Linked DNA regions of Homo sapiens. The protein of the gene in region 1 interacts with the protein of each later gene in a pairwise test. Each region holds a gene or a part of one and is shown on either strand. Other genes may lie near its edges. The genes, in order: PDZD8 and ITSN1.

Region 1 (3,826 bases):
GTATGATTAAGATTTTCCTTAAAATAACTTTACAAAATTTGTTAACACCCAAATTAAAGAGCAACTTCCAGTGAGGGTTCTTTTACCAGCGAATATCATTAGGTAGGAAAATTGAATTTCTGTCCAAGTGGGATTTATATATTAAAGCAGTGCAGCCAGTGATATATTTGGATATTAGGGTATTTGGCAAAGTCCCTCATGAGATATCCTTGAAGAATAGGACTTAAGAAATGTGGACTGGAGAATAATACAATTAGACTGATTTGTAATTGAGCGCCATAAACACTAATTGAATCCTTGTCAACAGCTGGGATGTAGCACTCTGCCTGTTTTTTTTTTTTAAATCAGTTGTTTGAATGAGGACACATAGCATGATGATGTTGTTGTTAATTCACAGATGATGTTAATCTAGTATCCACATTCCTGAAAATTGGATGGCAGGTTTATTTAGAAAACAAAATGATCTTGATGGGTTAGAATAGGACATCTCATTAACAATGTAACTTTTTTTTTTTAAATAAAGATGGGGTCTCACCATGTTGCCCAGGTTGGTCTTGAACTCCTGGGCTCAAATGGTCCTCCCACCTCAGCCCTCCTTAGTAGCTGCGATTACAGGTGTGCACCACCATCCCCATCATCCCCACCACATGATAACTCTTTTTTTTTTTCTGAGGTGGAGTCTCGCTTTGTTGCCCGGGCTGGAGTGCAGTGGTGTGATCTCAGCTCACTTCAACCTCTGCCTCCCGGGTTCATGCCATTCTCCTGCCTCAGGCTCCCGAGTAGCTGGGACTACAGGCACTGCCACCACGCCTGGCTAATTTTTTGTATTTTTAGTAGAGACGGGGTTTCACCGTGTTAGCCAGGATTGTCTTAATCTCCTGACCTCCTGATCCGCCCACCTCGGCCTCCCAAGTGCTGGGATTACAGGCGTGAACCACTGTGCCCGGCCGATAACTCTTAATAAAGTATAAATGTAAACTCTTTTCCTTTGCCTATTCCCAAAAAAGAAACTTGAAGAATACACTGGCCGGGTGGGATGGCTCACGCCTTTAATCCTAGCACTTTGGGAGGCTGAGGTGGGCGGATCACTTGAGCCCAGAAGTTTGAGACCAGCCTGGGCAACAGTGGTGAAACCCGATCTCTACACAAAAAAATACAAAAACTTGCCAGGCGTAGTGGTGCACGCCTGTAGTCCCAGCTGCTTGGGAGGCTGAGGTGAGAGAATCACTTGCGCCTGGGAGGTGGAGGTTGCAGTGAGCCAGGATTGTGCCACTGCATTCCAGCCTAGGTGACAGAGTGAGACCCTGTCTCAAAAAAAAAAAAAAAAAAAAAAAGGATACACCATACAAAATGGAGTTTCCAAAGCACATATTATGAATGACATAGATCATTTTCATTATATTTGAAAAAAGCAAGATTCAGAATTATATTCATGATTATAATTGTATTGACTACTATGTCTCAGTATTATTGAGACAAATCTCAATTTTGTGTTAAATATATATTAGAAAATATATAGAATAGTTCTAGATTGTATAATTAGGAATGGTTTTCTTTTTATTTTGCCTTTCTGTTTATTTCCCAATTTTCTACAATGAGCATGGAGCAAGGAGTAATAATAAAACACATTGAAGATAAAGTGTTTAATTTTTTTGATGATTTAAATGTGTAGCCTAAGGATAGTTAATTTATATTGTTACAGTAAAGATTTTCTCCTTCCTTTATTTGCCATGATAGAAAAGTCAGCATCAGCCATGGTGCTCTCTGCACATAACAGTCTGTTACTGTTTTTTTCCTCTATTACTAGGAATCCATTGAATCAGTTTTCATTTTTTTCCCCTTTATCAAAGGTTGAATTAATAAAAGGAAATTTACAAAGTGTTGGACTTACACTTCGTCTTGTCCAGTCAACTGATGGGTATGCTGGGCACGTCATCATTGAAACTGTGGCTCCAAACTCGCCTGCTGCAATTGCAGATCTTCAGCGGGGAGATCGACTTATCGCCATTGGAGGTAATTATGCTAATATGCATTATACTTTACCTTTACAGATAAACTACAAAGTAGGTGTGAGGTTTTTCCTTTCTTCCTTTTTCCTTATTTCTATAATATGCATATGTCACTTTTATAATGGAAATAAAGTAATAAACTTTATTATAAATAAAAATTCAAAGGAGGCCTTCAAAATACATTTAAAACATACATGCCATTTTAGTTCTAGTGTATAAATCTTTAAAATACTTTGTTTAGACCACTTTTATATAACCACTCTAATCCTTCCCTTCCCACCTTCTACTACTCTATTTATTTTTTCTTGAATGTGAAAGTAAGGGCAAATAAACAGGTTATCTTTCTGTACGACTACCACCATTGCTACTCTGAACCTAAAATTGGTAGTATTAGCACTACTGCCCCCATCACTTAGCACTAGATGATGAGCAGAAGAACCAACATTCCTTTTCCAGGAGGGCACATCTGAACTGTCCTGTGATCCTGTGTCATCTAAATGGCCAGCCATTTGTTAGTATGTTGTTGCTCAGAATTCAGCCCAAATCACTGGTGGAAAAATGTGTCACTTACATGCCTTCCTATCACTTGGATTGTTAACAGTAAAAACTCTCTGAAGATAGCAGGTTATTTGCTTGTATATAAATGTCTAAGCAGTAGGACTCACTGTGCACAGCAGTGAGGGGAAAGTCCAAGCCTTTTCAACCTTTGTAGTACCTGTCCCATCTATTCTAGGCTTGTTGAGAGATTTCTTGAACATATGGTTGGTCACAGTTGATCTGAAAAGGGCAATGTGATATTTTCTTTCACAGCTTAGACAATAAATAAGTTAGAACAGTTCCCAAATCAAGGTGCAGTTGTCCTTGGTTACATGTCAAAGAAACTCTGCCTTTGATTCAAATCCACCTTGACAATAAAATAATGAAAATTATTTAGTTGCATATCTGGGAGCCCAATTAAGTCAATATTTTCACATGGGAATCTCTGATCATGGCATAAGCAGTGCTTCTCAGACTTTCCCATGTATGCCAGTCACCCAGACCTGATGTTAAAATGTGCATTCTGAATCAGGAGACCTGTAGTGAGGCCCAAGATTCTTCATTTCTCACAGACTCCTCCCAAATGATGATGCTTATGCATAAACACTTAGGGAGGCATAAAATAGACATCATTCATTATATTAATATCATTTAATATTTTGGTTTTAGCTACAGGATAAAATTAATTTTTTCGGTCTTTTTTGGGGGTTGTGTTTCAATTACACAAGTAGTAAATACCTATTATCAAAAATAAATTAATTAACCTAAGCGATATAAATGTATACAGAGTGAAAAAGCAAAAGTCATCCCTTGACATCTAACATTTGTTAATTACAATAACAACAGGCCGGGCTCAGTGGCTCATGCCTGTAATCCCAGCACTTTGGGAGGCCGAGGCGGGTGGATCACCTGAGGTCAGGAGTTCGAGACCAGCCTGGCCAACATGGTGAAACCCATCTCTACTGAAAATATGAAAATTAGCTGGGCATGGTGGCAGGCGCCTGTAATCCCAGCTACTCAGGAGGCTGAGGCAGGAGAATTGCTTGAACCTGGGAGGCAGAGGTTGCAGTGAGCTGAGATCATACCATTGCACTCCAGCCTGGGCAACAAGAGCGAAACTCCATCTCAAATAATAATAATAATATGTATTAAGATGAAGGGCAGATACAATACACATTCATTGTTTTAAAAAAAAGAAAAACCTTGGAACATAACAGAAAAGCTTTTGTATGTCTCTTTTTTTGTTTTTTTGTTTGTTTGTTTTTTTCTGTACATAAATA
Region 2 (3,826 bases), on another chromosome or scaffold:
AGAACAAGAGGACATAGTTGTACTGAAAGCAAAGAAAAAGACTTTGGAATTTGAATTAGAAGCTCTAGTGAGTGAAGTTTGGTTATACTTTGAAAATATACTAAGATGGAACCATTAAAAACAGTAATAATTTTTATTATCTTTCATTTGTTCAAGAATGATAAAAAGCATCAACTAGAAGGGAAACTTCAAGATATCAGATGTCGATTGACCACCCAAAGGCAAGAAATTGAGAGCACAAACAAATCTAGAGAGTTGAGAATTGCCGAAATCACCCATCTACAGCAACAATTACAGGTGAGGAAATATGCCTCTTAAAAGCTATTATATTAAACTGGCATCCTTTTCTCTAATTCATTTCATTTACTTACTTATTCAGTAAACATTAAGCAACTGTCTTGTACTAGGCACTGGGAAGCAAAAATGAAGTAGACAGGGTCCTTGTGTGAAAAGTAGCCTGTCAAGGAGACAAACTCAGCAAATATTTACTGAGCACTGCTTCGGGCCAGGTGCTTTTGCAGTTTCTGAGGCTACAGCAGGGACAGACACTCTGTCTTCTGGGAGCTTACCCTCTGTTTGCAGGAGGAACAGAGACTAACAAAATAAAGTGTGTACTGTATTAGAAGATGAAAAGTGCTATGGAGAGTGAGTAGGGAAGGGAATAGAGAGTCCTAGGGATAGGAAATGTTGTGATTTTAACTAAGGTAGCCAAGACAGGTCTTTCTGGATGGTGACATTTGAGCAGAGACTTGAAATTAATGACAGGCTAAGCCATGTGGGTATCTGGCAGAGCAAGATCTAGGCAGGGAAATAGTGCCAAAGTCCTGAGGTCGTAGCAGGACTCTGAGATGCCAGTTACAGCAAGGAGACTACTGGGTAGAGCAGGTGGGAGCTGGATCACACAGAACCTGTAGTCCACCAACAGGACTTTGGCTTTACTGTGGTAATTACAATAAATAAGTACACTTAAGTATTTTAGGGGGTCATATGAGAGCTATATGTATACTAAATAGTTGGAGACATACAGAGCACTTTTAGTAGTTCTGTCTTCATTTTAAAGCCTATCCAAAGTTGTTATAATATCACCTGGTTTGGTATCAAGTGCTGAACTACAGGGGCATCAAATTCATGTAAATATTGCCTGTGGATGATCATATTTGCCTGTGATTCCTTTATGTTAGGCTTTTTCTCAGCATGATGTTTTTGAGATGTGTCCATGTTACTGAGTGAATGACTCTTTTGTTTCTTTTCATCACTGAGTAGTGTTTCCTTATGTGTCCATTCACCTACTGGTTGATATTCAGGTTCTTTCCAGTGTGGAACTTTTATGAATAAAACTGCAGTGAGCATTTATGTACAAGTCTTTATGTGGAAATGGTTTATTTCTCTTGGGTAAACTTTTAGGAATGGAACTACTGTGTCATGTAAGTGTATATTTAACCCCATAAGAAACTGTCAGGCTGGGCACAGTGGGTCACACCTGTAAACCCAATACTTTGAGAGGGCAAGGTAAGAGGATTGCTTGAGCTCAGGAGTTTGAGACCAGCCTGGGAAACATAGCAAGACCCCATCTCTAAAAAAAAAAAAAAAAAACTTAAAAATTAGCTGGCATGGGGGCGTTCACCTGTAGTACCTGCCTGAGGCAGGAAGACCACTTGAGCCCACGATATCGAGGCTGCAGTGAGCTATGATTGAGCCACTGACTGCCTGGGCCACAGAATGAGACCCTGTTCAAAAAAAAAAAAAAAAAGAGAGAGAAAAGAGAAAGGAAAGAAAGAGAACTGACAAACTGCAAAGAGTTTGTACCATTTTACATTCTGATCATTTAATTTGTATTTCCCTGAAGGCTAATGATGTTGGGAATCATCTTACATGTTTATTGGCGAGTATTTTTTACTGTGCATCTTCGTTGAAGTGTCTGAACAAATCTTTTGCCCATTTTTTATTGGGCTGTTTGTCTTACTATTTACTTGTAAAAGTTCTTTTTATATTCTTAACAAGTCCTTTGTCAGATACGTGTTTTGCAAATATTTTCTCCCAATCTGGCTTGGGTTTAATTTTTGTTAGTGGTATTTTTTAAAGGGCAGAAGTTTTAAATTTTGATGAAGTTCAGTTTACCGTTTTTTTTCTTTTGGTGTTCATGCTTTTTATGTTCTATCTGAGAAATCTTTGACTACCCCATGACTGCAAATATTTTATTTTCTTCTAGAAGTTTTTGGGGCTTAAAAAAATAATTTTTACAAGTTTTTATAAATTGAAAAAAACTTAAAATTTTAAGTTTCATAGTTGTATCTTATATGTTTAGGTCTATGAGCTATTTCAAGTTGATTTTTGCAGATAGTATAAGGTAAAGGTTGAGGTTTATATTTTTACATACTGATACACAGTTGTTATAGCACCATTTATTAAAAACACTGGCTTTTTTCCCATTGAGTTACCTTGGTAGCTTGTTGAAAATCAGTTGAACATATTTGTAATGGTCTATTCTGGACTCTATTCTGTTCTTTTGATCTGTCTGTCCTTTACCAGTACCTCACCCTGTTGATACCTAATTTTTGAAGTCAAGTGATACGAATTCTCTGTTATTGTTCTTTTTAGAATTGTTTTTGGTTATTCCAGGTCCTTAACATTTCCATGTACATTTTAGAATCAGCTTATCAGTTTTTACAAAAATGCTTGGAATTTTGTTGGAATTCCATTGAATTTATAAATCAATTTGGGAAGATTTGACATCTCAGCAATAGTAAATCTATGGCATAAATCTCTATTTTGGTAGTTATAAATTTCTCTCAGCAATGTTTTGTAGTTTGCAGTGTCCAAGTCTTGTAGATACTTTGTAAAGTTTATCCCTAAGTATTTTGTGGCTTTTGATGCTATTGTATATTGCATATTTTTATTTTAGTTTCCAGTTGTTTGGTGCCAGTATATGGAAATAGAATTTATTTTTGTATATTGACCTTATATCTGTGATTGCTTAACTAACTTCCTTTGTGTGTCTTACTTTGTTGACCAGAACCTCCCATACTATATTGGATAGAAGTGGGAAGAGCCTTGTTCCCTCTCGATGAAGGAAAGCTCTCTCACCATAGAGTATAGTGTTAACCAGGGTTCTTGTAAACACCTTTTATCAGGTTGATGGACTTCTCCTTTTGCTGAGGGTTTTTATGATGAATGGGTGTTGAAATAGATCATATGTTTTTTCCCCGCATCTATTGAGATAAGTATGTGTTTTTTCTTTCTTATTTTGTTAATATGATGAAGTACATGGTTGCCATTTGAATGTTAAATCAGCCTTCCATTCTTGGGATAAACCACTCTTGGTCATGGTATATTACCCTTTATTAAAATATTTCACTACATTCCATTTCCCATTATTTTATTAAGGATCTTTTTAAATCTGTTGAATTCAATTCAACAGAGATATTGGTTTTTAGTGTTCTTCTAATATTCTTGTCTAGTTTTGATATCAGGGTAATGCTGGCCTCAGAAAATGAGTTGGAAAATATTCCTTCCTCCTCTATTTTCTAAAAGTGTTTGTGTTGAAATAGCATTTCTTCTTTAAATTTTGGTGGCATTCACCAGTGAAGGCCTCTGGGCCTGGAGCTTTCTTGAAGACTTAATTATAAAATTCATTATGCAGATATAGGGCTATTCTGATTTTCTTCTTCTCCTTGAATCTGTTTTGATTATCTGTCAATGAACTTGTTTATATTATCTAAATTATTAAATTTACTTGTATAAAGTTGTTTATAATATTCTCTTTTTTTTTTTTTTTTTTTTTTTTTGAGACGGAGTCTCGCTCTGTCGCCCAGGCTGGAGTGCAGTG

What was found.
Region 2: the proteins of PDZD8 (region 1) and ITSN1 interact in a two-hybrid assay, tested with the Homo sapiens proteins (one large-scale study listed by BioGRID and IntAct).

The regions. Positions count from the first base shown.
Region 1 is NC_000010.11:117,288,373-117,292,198, reverse strand, and holds part of PDZD8 (PDZ domain-containing protein 8), read left to right. Parts: intron 1-1,850; coding exon 1,851-2,013; intron 2,014-3,826. UniProt on the Homo sapiens protein: Molecular tethering protein that connects endoplasmic reticulum and mitochondria membranes. PDZD8-dependent endoplasmic reticulum-mitochondria membrane tethering is essential for endoplasmic reticulum-mitochondria Ca(2+) transfer.
Region 2 is NC_000021.9:33,774,812-33,778,637, forward strand, and holds part of ITSN1 (intersectin-1), read left to right. Parts: coding exon 1-67; intron 68-156; coding exon 157-297; intron 298-3,826. UniProt on the Homo sapiens protein: Adapter protein that provides a link between the endocytic membrane traffic and the actin assembly machinery. Acts as a guanine nucleotide exchange factor (GEF) for CDC42, and thereby stimulates actin nucleation mediated by WASL and the ARP2/3 complex.